Linked DNA regions of Homo sapiens. Changing the gene in region 3 together with the main gene of any one other region gives a genetic interaction. Each region holds a gene or a part of one and is shown on either strand. Other genes may lie near its edges.

Region 1 (3,500 bases), on a different chromosome or scaffold from region 3:
TGGGATCCCGGAATGTGGCTGCCAACCCCAACACCTGGAAACCCCTCCCCATCCCGCCCCCTCAGCTTGGGGCACCCATAGCCAACTCTGTACCACCTGTGGGTGATCTTTGGTAGAACTAATCCCACTTTGGGTTGACAGCAGGTTACGTAGGCTACTAGTTTGCATCAACCCAAGGAGTGGAGATAGATAATCCATGGGGAAAGAATGATATTTGAGCCCCATTTTCAGTCACCTCATCAAGCCCTCAGCGTCTTACTTGTATTACATTTGTTATGAATTCACATGAGCAGCACTCATGCTAGAATGTAAACCCAGAAACCTACTCCAGAGCCAAATGATTTGCAGGGGTGAGAAGGACACAGAGAGGAGAGGCTGAATCTCAGCACCCCACTCTCAAGGCGGCATGAGTCACCTGTGCAGGAAGCCCTCGTCTCCATCCACTGATCTTGGAACTGCAGAGGGAACTCACTTTTCCATGAGAAGAGTCAGAAGACCACTCTGGGGGGCCATAGCGTTCCACAGAGCAAACTGACCCCAGTGTGGACTCTCAGTCTCTCTGGCAGAGTTCTTTAAAACACACCAGCCATAAAACAAGTTAAACGTTTTTTGTTTTTGTTTTTGTTTTTTTCTTACTAGGTCATGTTCACGGAGGAGGATGTCAAGTTCTACCTGGCTGAGCTGGCCTTGGCTTTAGACCATCTCCACAGCCTGGGGATCATCTACAGAGATCTGAAGCCTGAGAAGTAAGTGAGAAAAAACTAGGGCTGACTTCCCCACGCCCATCAGCTCCATGTATTTTCCTGGCCCATGTTGGTAGCCACTGCTAGATATTTATTTCCTAAATGAGGACATATCAGAGAGCAGGCTGGGGAGACTCTTGTGCCGGCAGGACCGGCTCAGGCATCAGGTGCCCAGATGCAGGTGTGGCCTTGCTGATTTGCATAGGAAATGCCCAGGCCCATTCTCACCTGACACTCATAACGCCTGAGGGAGGCCAGGCTCAGGTGCATGTCTGTGATGCACGGGAAGCCGGAGCTGGGGAGGGGCACGCCCACGACCCTGACCCACATTCCCGCCCTCTCTCCTGGGTGAGGCTCATCTGGCCACTGGGGACCATCTCAAACATGGCTGCCTCCAGGGCAGTTTCTCCTCCTCTCTCATCTCTTCCCTACTGTCCTCCAGATTCAGGAAGCCCTTTCATCTACTTCAGCAAGTCCCAGGAATGTGGTCAATGAACCTCTACTCAGTTACTTGTCAGCCCCACCTCTAGGTCCCCAGTCAGAACAGCTCTCCCAAGAACTTACCTAAAAGACAACGGCCCCAGAATTCTCAGACCCAGAGTCCACTGAGATTTGTATATCCTTGGCAGTGGTGACCTGTGAGGCTATTATTTCTACGATATTTTGCTAATCTATTCTAGATTTTTGAACAGTAAAGTCCCTCCAAAATAATAGTGTTCCCATTTTCATTTTGTTGTTGTTGTTTTTACATATTCTTTGTAGACCTGACACATAACTAGGAGTGATCCACTTAGAAAAGAAGAGATTTGGAGGATGGTATTTTAGGTTGAGTTGACCTCAGCAGTATCCCTGAGGTGATCACTCACTCTTCCCTGCCCTGAGGGGCCGATTAATGCCACCCACCCAGACCAGGGCCCATAGCCGCCCCTAGATGAGGCATCACCTGTGGCCTGGTGGGACCGACCGGCCTTGGGTACCACCAGAGAGCCCCGTGCCTGTGAGCTAAGACCAAGGGGGGGCCCTGGGGTCTGCAAACGCGTCCCAGTTGCTACTCCACATTCCTGCCCTGTCACCTGCATGGAACTGAGAAAAGACAAGCCCTGCTCCGAAGCTGGTGTTGTTAGATGCAGCTGTCATCTATGGGAAACAGCTGGGTTTACCCAGAAACCAGGTCACATCCCATATCCACTGCAGGATGCAAAATGCATTTGCCCATGTGCTTGATGATCTGACTTCACCACCAGTCCGTGGAACGCCACAGGCACACATGTGAGTTGAATACGTGTGTAAATACAGCTGGAGCATCCCTCATCCGAATCTGAAATGCTCCAAAATCCAAAACTTTTTGAGCCCCAATGGGACACCCCCCAGTGGAAAATTCCACACATAAGCACTTAACACAAACGTGGTTTCATACACAAAATTATTTAAAATATTCTATAAATTAGCTCCAGGTGATGTGTAGAAGGTATATATGAAACATAAATGAATTTTGTTTCATTTCAGACTTGTGGCCCATCTCCAAGATATCTCATTATATATAAGTAAATATTGCAAAATCCCCAAATCCTAAACACTTCCGGTTTCAGGCATTTCAGATAAGGGATGCTCAACGTAGAATCAAAAAAGACTTTATCCAGAGTAATCCCATGAAGAGAGCAGCCTCCGCAGCTGCTGTCTCCCCACAAGAGCAGCAGCACAAGGCCAGATTTCCATTTCAAAGTGGGTCTGACCTAGAACCCCGTGGTGCTCTGAGCCCTGGGAGTCCCCTTTCGCCTCTCCTTAATTGGGAGGTGATTGCAGAGCCTGGCCTGTCACCTTGGGTCGTTGCCAAGGTCATCCCAGAAGTTAACCTGGTATTAATTACCCTCCAAGTCGGAGTGCCGTGTTGTGAGTCTGTGTGGACGTTGCCACTCCTCCTCCTCGTGCGGCCCTGGCTGTTGACGCCTGTGTGTTAGACACACTCCCCGTGCATCCACTCAGGCCGGGAGTGCCGGTTCTCATTGCTCCTGAAGGTCAGCGTGATCCTTACAGCTAAAAATAGCCTTATTTAATTGCAAGCTTGAAGGAAAAGGTTGTGTTGTTCAACTAGAATTATTAGAGAATTAATCTTGAAAGGTGCTTAATTCTGGGCAAAGATTGAATATGCCCAAAAGGCAAAGATGAAAAGATTTGCCTTGTTCATTATAAATTGTCATCTTAATTACATGCTGTAACTTTTCCTTCCCATTTCCAGAAAATAGTGGTTATTTTTTTAACTCTGTGGCAGATTTTTTTTAATTGTAGAAAAATACACATGACTTTTACAGTTTTCACCACGTTTAAGTGCCCAGTTCAGTGGCATTAAGCACGTTCCCATTGCTGGGCCCCCATCCCCACCGTCCATCTCCAGAACTGTTTCATCTTGCAGAACTAAAGCTCTGTCCCCCTGCACAGTAGCTCCCCAGCCCCCGGCACCCGCCATCCACTTTCCATCTCTGTGACTCTGGCCCCTCTAGGGACCATACATTTTATATTTGTAAAATCATATAATACCTGTCGTTTGGGGACGGGCTTATTTAATCGAGCATAATGTCCTCCGGGCTCCTCTGTGCTGTAGCAAGTCAGGCTTTCCTTCCTTTCACAGGTTTCTATAAAGGTATCACAGATTAATCCTCCAAGCCTTGCCTTTGTTTCTTTCCAGCCCACTTCCTGGTCTCTTTAGGGCTAGGCTGGTACCTCCCAGCATCTGGAAGAACAGGATTTAATTACAGCCAA
Region 2 (3,723 bases), on a different chromosome or scaffold from region 3:
GGACATGGGGTTCAGACCCTCAAGGGGGCCAGACCTCATGGCTTGAGGGGTTCCTAGTAGCATTGTGGTCAGCAGAGGGCAAAGTGAGAAACAGCATGGAAGTGAGGTTCAGGTTTTACAGTGCACCAGGGTGCCTCTCCTAAGGGAAGCCATTTATGAAGTGATAGAGCTATGGCAAGGCCAGGTGTGGTGGTTCACGCCCGTAATCCCAACACTTTGGGAGGCCAAGGCGGGAGGATAGCTTGAGCCCAGGAGTTGGAGACCAGCTGGGGCAACATAGTGAGACAAAAAAAAAATTTTTTTTTTAAATAGCTGGGTGTGGCAATATGGGTCTGTAGGACCAGCTATGTGAGAGGCTAAGGCAGGAGGATCATTTGAGCCCCGGCATTCAAGGCTGAAGTGAACTACGATCGTGCCGCTGCACTCCAGCCTGGGTGACAGAGCCAGATCCTGTCTCTAAAAATAATAAGAATTAATTAATTAATTTAAAAAATGTCTGGGCGTGGTGGCTCACACCTTTAATCCCAGCATTTTGGGAGGCCAAGGCAAGTGGATCACTTGAGGTCAGGAGTTCAAGACCAGCCTGGTCAACATAGTGAAACCCCGTCTCTACCAAAACATACAAAAATTAGCCAGGCATGGTGGCGTGCACCTGTAATCCCACACTTGGGAGGTTGAGGTGGTAGAATCACTTGAACCCTGGAGGCAGAGGTTGCAGTGAGCTGAGATCTTGCCACTGCACTCCAGCCTGGGCAACAAGAGTGGGACTCCATCTCAAAAATAAATAAATAAATAAAAATAAAAATAAATAAATAGGCTGGGTGCAGTGGTTCACGCCTGTAATCCCAGCACCTCCGGAAGCCAAGATGGGCAGATAACCTGAGGTCAGGAGTTCGAGACTACCCTGGCCAACATGTTGAAACCCCGTCTCTACTAAAAATACAAAAATTAGCCGGGCGTGGTGGTGCACACCTGCAGCCTCAGCTACTCGGGAGGCTGAGGCAGGAAAATAGCTTGAACCCAGGAGATGGAGGTTGCAGTGAGCCAAGATTGTGCCACTGCACTCCAGCCTGGGCAACAGAGCAAGACTCTGTCTTAAAAAATAAAAAATAAAATAAAATAAAATATTAAATTAAATTTAAAAAATAGAGCTGCAGCACGTGCAAAGGTAGGCTCAAGTGGTGATCCCTGAATTGGAGGTTCCTGGGATGGAAGGCGGAAGCTGAGGGTGGGCTTTGGGCCAGGGCTAGACAGGATCTCTGGGCCTGGGGACCCCACGCCTGCCTACCTGAGAGGGTGCACATCAAAGAGCGGTGGCTGTAGCTCGGCCAGTTCGATGGCCGTGATGCCCAGGGACCAGATGTCACACAGCTCATTGTATCCTCCCTTCAGGGCCACAGCTGCCACTTCCGGAGCCATCCTGGGGGCAGACACGCTCAGAGAGCCAGAGGTGGCATGGGGACAGGAAGGGAAGGAGGGGCAGAGAAGGAGAAGGAGTTGAGGGGAGACGCAGCACACAGAGAGTCAGATGGAGAGACAGAGGGACAGGAGTAAAGACAGACACAGGCAGATGAAGACAGAGATGCAGACGGGGCGCGATGGCTCACGCCTGTAATCCCAGCACTTTGGGAGGCTGAGCAAGGAGAATGGCTTAGGCCCAGGAGTTTGAGACCAGCCTGGGCAACTTATCAAGACCCTATCTCGGCTGGGCACGGTGGCTTTTGCCTGTAATTCCAGCACTTTGGGAGGTCAAGGCGGACAGATCACCTGAGGTGAGGAGTTCGAGACCAGCCTGACCAACATGGTGAAAGCCCGTCTCTACTAAAAGTACAAAAATTAGCCGGGCGTGGTGGCAGGCGTCTGTAATCCCAGCTACTTGGTGGCTGAGGCAGGAGAATTGCTTGAACCTGGGAGGTGAAGGTTGCAGTGAGCTGAGACCATGCCACTGCACTCCAGCCTGGGCAACAGAGCAAAACTCCGTCTCAAGAAAAAAAAAAAGAACGAAAAAGAAAAAAAAAAAAAAACAACACCATCTCTACACAAATTTTAAAAATTAGCCAGGTGTCATGGTGCACACCTGTGGTCCCAGCTACTTGGGAGGCTGAGGTGGGAGGATCTCCTGAGCCCAGGAGTTCTAGGCTGCAGTGAGCCGTGACTATGCCACTGCAATCCAGCCTGGGCCACAGAGTGAGACCCTGTCTCTAAAAACAAAACAAAATGAAAAGACAGAGAGGCAGAGACAGAGAGTGAGAGAGACAGAAACAAAGAGACAGAGAGCACTGCAAACTGAGCTAGAGGAAAAAGACAGAAATGGATATGGAGGGACAGAGAAATCAAGATAAAAATCAACACAAACACCGAGAGCAATGGCCAGAAAAGGGCACAAAGAGAGAGGAAAATGGAAAACTCAAGCGACACCCAGAGAGAATGAAAGAATCTTCCAAGGAGAAAGGACGAGGCAGGGGAACGGAGCCAGGAAAGAGGATCCCGGGGAACCAGGGTAGGAAAAACCACTGACCCCCACTCCACCCCTAGCTGCCCGCTGGGCGCCACTCACCAGTAGGGTGTCCCAATGAAAGAGAGGCGTCTGGCCAGTGTAGCCCCAATCTGGGCCGAGATGCCAAAGTCAGCTGGAAGCAGAGGGAGACATAGTGATCTGGGGTCCACTGCGCTTCCGGCCCCCCAGTCAGCCCCCCTGCTCAACCCCCAGCCTTACTCACCCAATCTGACCTCCCCAGCATCATTGATGAGGATGTTAGCTCCCTGGGAATGAGAGGGGATATGGGAGGCTGCAGAGACTCTCCCCAGCCCAGTGCTAGCCCACTCCGCCAGCTCAAACTACCCTGATCCCTGAGCCCCTGAAATGCCACTCCCATCTCCTGGGCCCCACCCCCCAACAGCACCCCTACACCCCCAGACCACCTTGATGTCCCTGTGTATCTTCTTCTGTGAGTGCAAATAGGCCAGTCCCTGGGGAGAAGGGTGGACAAGGGGACAGTGAGTGTTTGGGGGCTGGAGTGGGGCCACCCTCCCCTCCCATCCCCAGAATCCCCAGGCCTCTCCTTACCTGGAGCACTTCCCGGCAGACATAGCTAATCTGGAGCTCTGACAGGGAGCCTGTCACTGCAAAGGTCACCCCGGCCAGGCCAGGCATTGGATGGGAGCCAGGGAACCTGGGCTGGGGAGTCCTGCCCCCCCACACCAGCTAAGAGGGTGCCATAGGGAGAGGGGAAATAGGATAGGACCAGTGGGAGGGGGAGATGGTGGGGTGGTCAGTGACAGAAAGAGGCAGCAATGCAAATAAAAGAGGCCAATAGGCCTGGCGCAGTGGCTCATGCCTATAATCCCAGCACTTTGGGAGGCCAAGGTGGGTGGATCACTTGAGGTCAGGAGTCCGAGACCAGCCTGGCCAACATGGTGAAACCCCATCTCTACTAAAAAATACAAAAATTAGCCAGGCATAGTGGTGCATGCCTGTAATCCCAAGTACTCAGGAGGCTGAGGCAGGAGAATCGTTTGAACCCAGGAGGTGGAGGTTGCAATGAGCCGAGATCGTACCACTGCACTCCAGCCTGGGCAATAGAAGGAGGCTCTGTCTCAAAAAAAAAAAAAAAAAAAAAAAAAAAGGAAAGAAGGAAAGAAAGAAAGTAAGCAAGATAAATAAGTAGAATATGATATAGTTCCTCAGACGCTGATAGACAGCAAGAAGAAACATAAAGCAAG
Region 3 (3,723 bases):
GTGAGTTTGTCTGGTGGTGGAGAGAAAGAGGTGAGGTGTAGCTGGGCAGGGGGGCTTTCTCTGCCCCTCACCGAATCCCCATTCCAGGCTCAAGGGGCAGAAGTCCCCAGATCGCCTCAGCAGTCCCCCACAGTAGGCAATAAAAGCCTGAAAAGGAACGAGCCGGGCATTCTCACTTAAGAACAGAGAGTAAGCGTCACATGGATGACTTCTGTCTCCATGAGTCAGCTCAGTTTGTTGAAGTGTGTTTCAGGGCAAGGACATGTGGCTCCTGCGTAAGTGCCACCACCTTCTGGGCACTCGCTAGGCCTCGGGTCCTGTGCTGAGCTCCACAGGGATTATCTTAATCAGTTCTTGGCATAAGCTTATGAGGCAGGTACAGTTCACAAAGGAGTTGTGAAAGGGAAGCCTCAGAGAGGTTAAGTAACTGACCCAAGGTCACACAGCTAGCAACACGCAGGGCAAGGTCTGGAACTCGGAAGTTTAAACACGAGAGCTGGCACTAGCCAACCACTGTACACACCAGCTCTTTGCCGGGCATGCTGGTGGTTGAGTGTACAGATATGTACCCATCTGTGACCATGTGAATACGCAGGGCAGGCAGACGACACTTGGCCATCACCACCTCCCGTGTAGTGGGGGGCAGAGGAGGGCACAGCACCAGGTTTCAATTTATGGAATCATCCCTGGATGCCTGGTTCTTGGGGTGTGGTGGCGGTCACATGAGGGTTCACCCCGCAGCCCCACCGCAGAGAAATCCCACAGTGCCTGCCTGCCCAACCGCAAATCCCCTAATGGGCTGGGAGCCTCCCAGGTGTGTGGGGAGCCAGGCCAGGCTGCTTTCTCCGGGCCAGCCTGGGCCTGAGGCCTCCTGCCCACCAGAGGCCCCGCCTCACCCCGTCCCTGCCCGGCTGCCCCCGAGCACTCACGTCAATGTCCCTGATGTTATGCATGAGCTGGTAGGCGATGTCCTTACAGCCCTGGCTCAAGGCCTCAGGGGGCATCTCGTTGTCTGAGTACCAGTCCCGGTCAGCCGAGTGGGCGTAGGCGGCGCTGGGGGTGGCATGGTTCACTCTCGTGGTGGTCACAATGCCCACAGATTTCCCTGGGGTGCAGGAGGGGCGGGTTTGGCTTTATCCACAGATCGGGGTGTCCCAGAGGCCTCCTCCCTCCCTTCCCCCTCCCCGCTAAAGACAGGCCCCCGCTTCAGTTCTGAGGATTGCCCGGGTCTCAGTCTCCCCATCCACAGCAGCAGGTGTCTGGCAGTGGCTTCCAAGTAGCCGAGCAGCCAGAACACTGCCTCTGGAACCCTCTCCCCTCACCCCGAAGGCCCTTGAGATGTGAGCACCTGGGCTGGAGTCCTCCCCTTCATCAAGGCGCCCACAGGACCCCTGAGGGATCTCAAGTGGACTGTGGCTCTGTCACCTGTATGTTGGCCTTGTCACCTGTGTTTTGGCCTTGGCCCCTGACTAAAGCTTCTGGGGGCACAGGCTGGGCCTCCCAATTCTGAGGAGGGAAGGGGCGTGGCCATGGACTGCACCCCACAGGCTAGCCCTGGGCTGACTTCTCCCTCCTCACACCAACCCTATGAGGGGGCTACGTTCCCACCCGTTTTATAGTCAAATGAAGAATCGACTCAGAGAAATGAACTGGGACCAGAACCCACCACTGAGTGAACCCCAAACCCTCAGCTTCCCCTGTCACGGAAGGAATCCCATGGATATTACAGACTCCCAGCATATCAGAGCTGGGAGCCCCACAGAGAAGCCTTTTCTAGCCCCTTCCCATGACACAGTCAGAAAGACTGAGGCCTGGACAGGCCACGAAGCTGGCCCTGCTCCCCACTGCTCCCCCGACTCACCAGCGTCCTTGGCCCAGCGCAGGATGGAGGTGACCTCGTTCCCCTGGGTGGTGTTGCACCGGGAACGCTCAGTGGCTGCGCTTACCCCCACGGTGCCCTCATTGGCCTTCACCCCACACAGGTAGGCGGTGGCGGTGCCGGCACTGTCAGGGACCTGGGCATTGGTGTTGTACGTCTGCAGGTGGGAGAGGAGGGTCAGGAGATGGCCAGGCCTTCGCCCCAGTGGCACCCACCCCGCCTACACTCACACCATGGGGACTGGGGCGTGAGGGACCAGAGAGGACCCCATAGCCTTGACCAGGCCCACTGCCCACTGAAGCCCCCCAGAGCCACAGGACTACCTAGCTGCCTGCTTCCTGCCATCATTCCCTGCACCCTGGCAGCACTGGGGCAGGACCTTAGCTCTCCAAAGTACAGAGAAGTGTCCGGCGGAAGATTGGGGCTCAGGTGGGGTCAGCGGAGGCCTCTCTCCGGGCCTGGGGCTGCAGGAGCCAGCAAGGGGTTGGGGAGCAGGGGAGTCCTGGAGAAGGGAGAGGGAGGGGCCTTCTTGAAGGAGTGGGGGGTCTGGGGATAGGGTAGTGAAAGTGAGGGGGAAGGGGACTGGGGAAGGGAAGGGTGGGGCCAAGACCAGCGCTGACTTCTCTGCCACCTGCCCTGCGGCCACCATCACAGGGTTGCCCTACATCCGGATGTTTAGCAGAGACCCCAAAACTATTTGCCTGTCTCCCTTCCCCACCAGCCTGAGAGCACCTTGAAGGCACAGAAGGCACCATAGTCCCCACTACTCCCCCAGAAGTGAGCCTGGGGCCTGACCCAGGGTCTGGAGGTTATTACATAACACCACTATCACCACCACCAATAGCAATAGCTACCCGGCAGTGCACACTGCCTTGAACAACCTAGGTCAGTACAGGCACACCTCATTTTAGTGTACTCCACAGACACTGTGTTTGTTACAAATTGAAGATCTGTGGCAACCCTGTGTCAAGCAAGTCTATCAGCATCATTTTTTCCAAAAACATGAGCTCACTTCATTAGCGTTTTTTAGCAATAGCATATTTTTAAATTAAGGTATATACATTTTTTTAGACATAATGCTATCCCACACTTAAAAGACTACTGTAGGGTGCAAACATAACTTTTATATGCACTGGGAAACCAAAAAATGTGTGACTTGCTTCATTGCAATATTTGCTTTATTACAGTGGCCTGGAACCAAACCCGAAGTATAGCTGAGGTATGCCTATAGTCTAATTAACTTCACGAACTGCCTCGGGAAAGAATGAATGAACTGGAACTTCATGCAAAAGTGTATACAGGCCAGGCACGGTGGCTCATGCCTGTAATCCTAGCACTTTGGGAGGCCAAGGTGGGCAGATCACCTGGGGTCAGGAGTTCGAGACCAGCCTGGCCAACAGGGTGAAACCTTGTCTCTACTAAAAATAAAAAAATTAGCTGGGCATGGTGGCGCATGCCTGTAATCCCAGCTACTTGGGAGGCTGAGGCAGAAGAATCACTTGAACTCGGGAGGCAGAGGTTGCAGTGAGCTGATGTCATGCTACTGTACTCCAGCCTGGAAGACAGAGTAAGACTGTCTCAAAAAAAAAAAAAAAAAAAAGGCATATATAGGCCGTGCATGGTGGCTCACGCCTGTAATCCCAAGACTGGGAGGCCAAGGCTGTAGGATCGCTTAAGCCCAAGAATTAGAGACCTTGGGGGGGTCTCTAATTATCCATATGTGGTGGTACACACCTGTAGTCCCAGCTACTCGGGAGGCTAACGTGGGAGGATGGCTTGAGCCCAGGAGTTGGAGGCTGCAGTGAGCTATGACTGCACCACTGCACTGCAGCCTGGGCAACAGA

What was found.
Region 1: changes in ALPL (region 3) and RPS6KA2 together harm fitness more than expected from each alone (negative genetic interaction), as found in Homo sapiens cells (one large-scale study listed by BioGRID).
Region 2: changes in ALPL (region 3) and MAP4K1 together harm fitness less than expected from each alone (positive genetic interaction), as found in Homo sapiens cells (one large-scale study listed by BioGRID).

The regions. Positions count from the first base shown.
Region 1 is NC_000006.12:166,501,752-166,505,251, reverse strand, and holds part of RPS6KA2 (ribosomal protein S6 kinase alpha-2), read left to right. Parts: intron 1-639; coding exon 640-746; intron 747-3,500. UniProt on the Homo sapiens protein: Serine/threonine-protein kinase that acts downstream of ERK (MAPK1/ERK2 and MAPK3/ERK1) signaling and mediates mitogenic and stress-induced activation of transcription factors, regulates translation, and mediates cellular proliferation, survival, and differentiation.
Region 2 is NC_000019.10:38,611,323-38,615,045, forward strand, and holds part of MAP4K1 (mitogen-activated protein kinase kinase kinase kinase 1), read right to left. Parts: intron 3,124-3,723; coding exon 3,068-3,123; intron 2,971-3,067; coding exon 2,923-2,970; intron 2,764-2,922; coding exon 2,721-2,763; intron 2,631-2,720; coding exon 2,558-2,630; intron 1,421-2,557; coding exon 1,289-1,420; intron 1-1,288. UniProt on the Homo sapiens protein: Serine/threonine-protein kinase, which plays a role in the response to environmental stress. Appears to act upstream of the JUN N-terminal pathway.
Region 3 is NC_000001.11:21,561,423-21,565,145, reverse strand, and holds part of ALPL (alkaline phosphatase, tissue-nonspecific isozyme isoform 1 preproprotein), read right to left. Parts: intron 2,037-3,723; coding exon 1,862-2,036; intron 1,106-1,861; coding exon 930-1,105; intron 1-929. UniProt on the Homo sapiens protein: Alkaline phosphatase that metabolizes various phosphate compounds and plays a key role in skeletal mineralization and adaptive thermogenesis.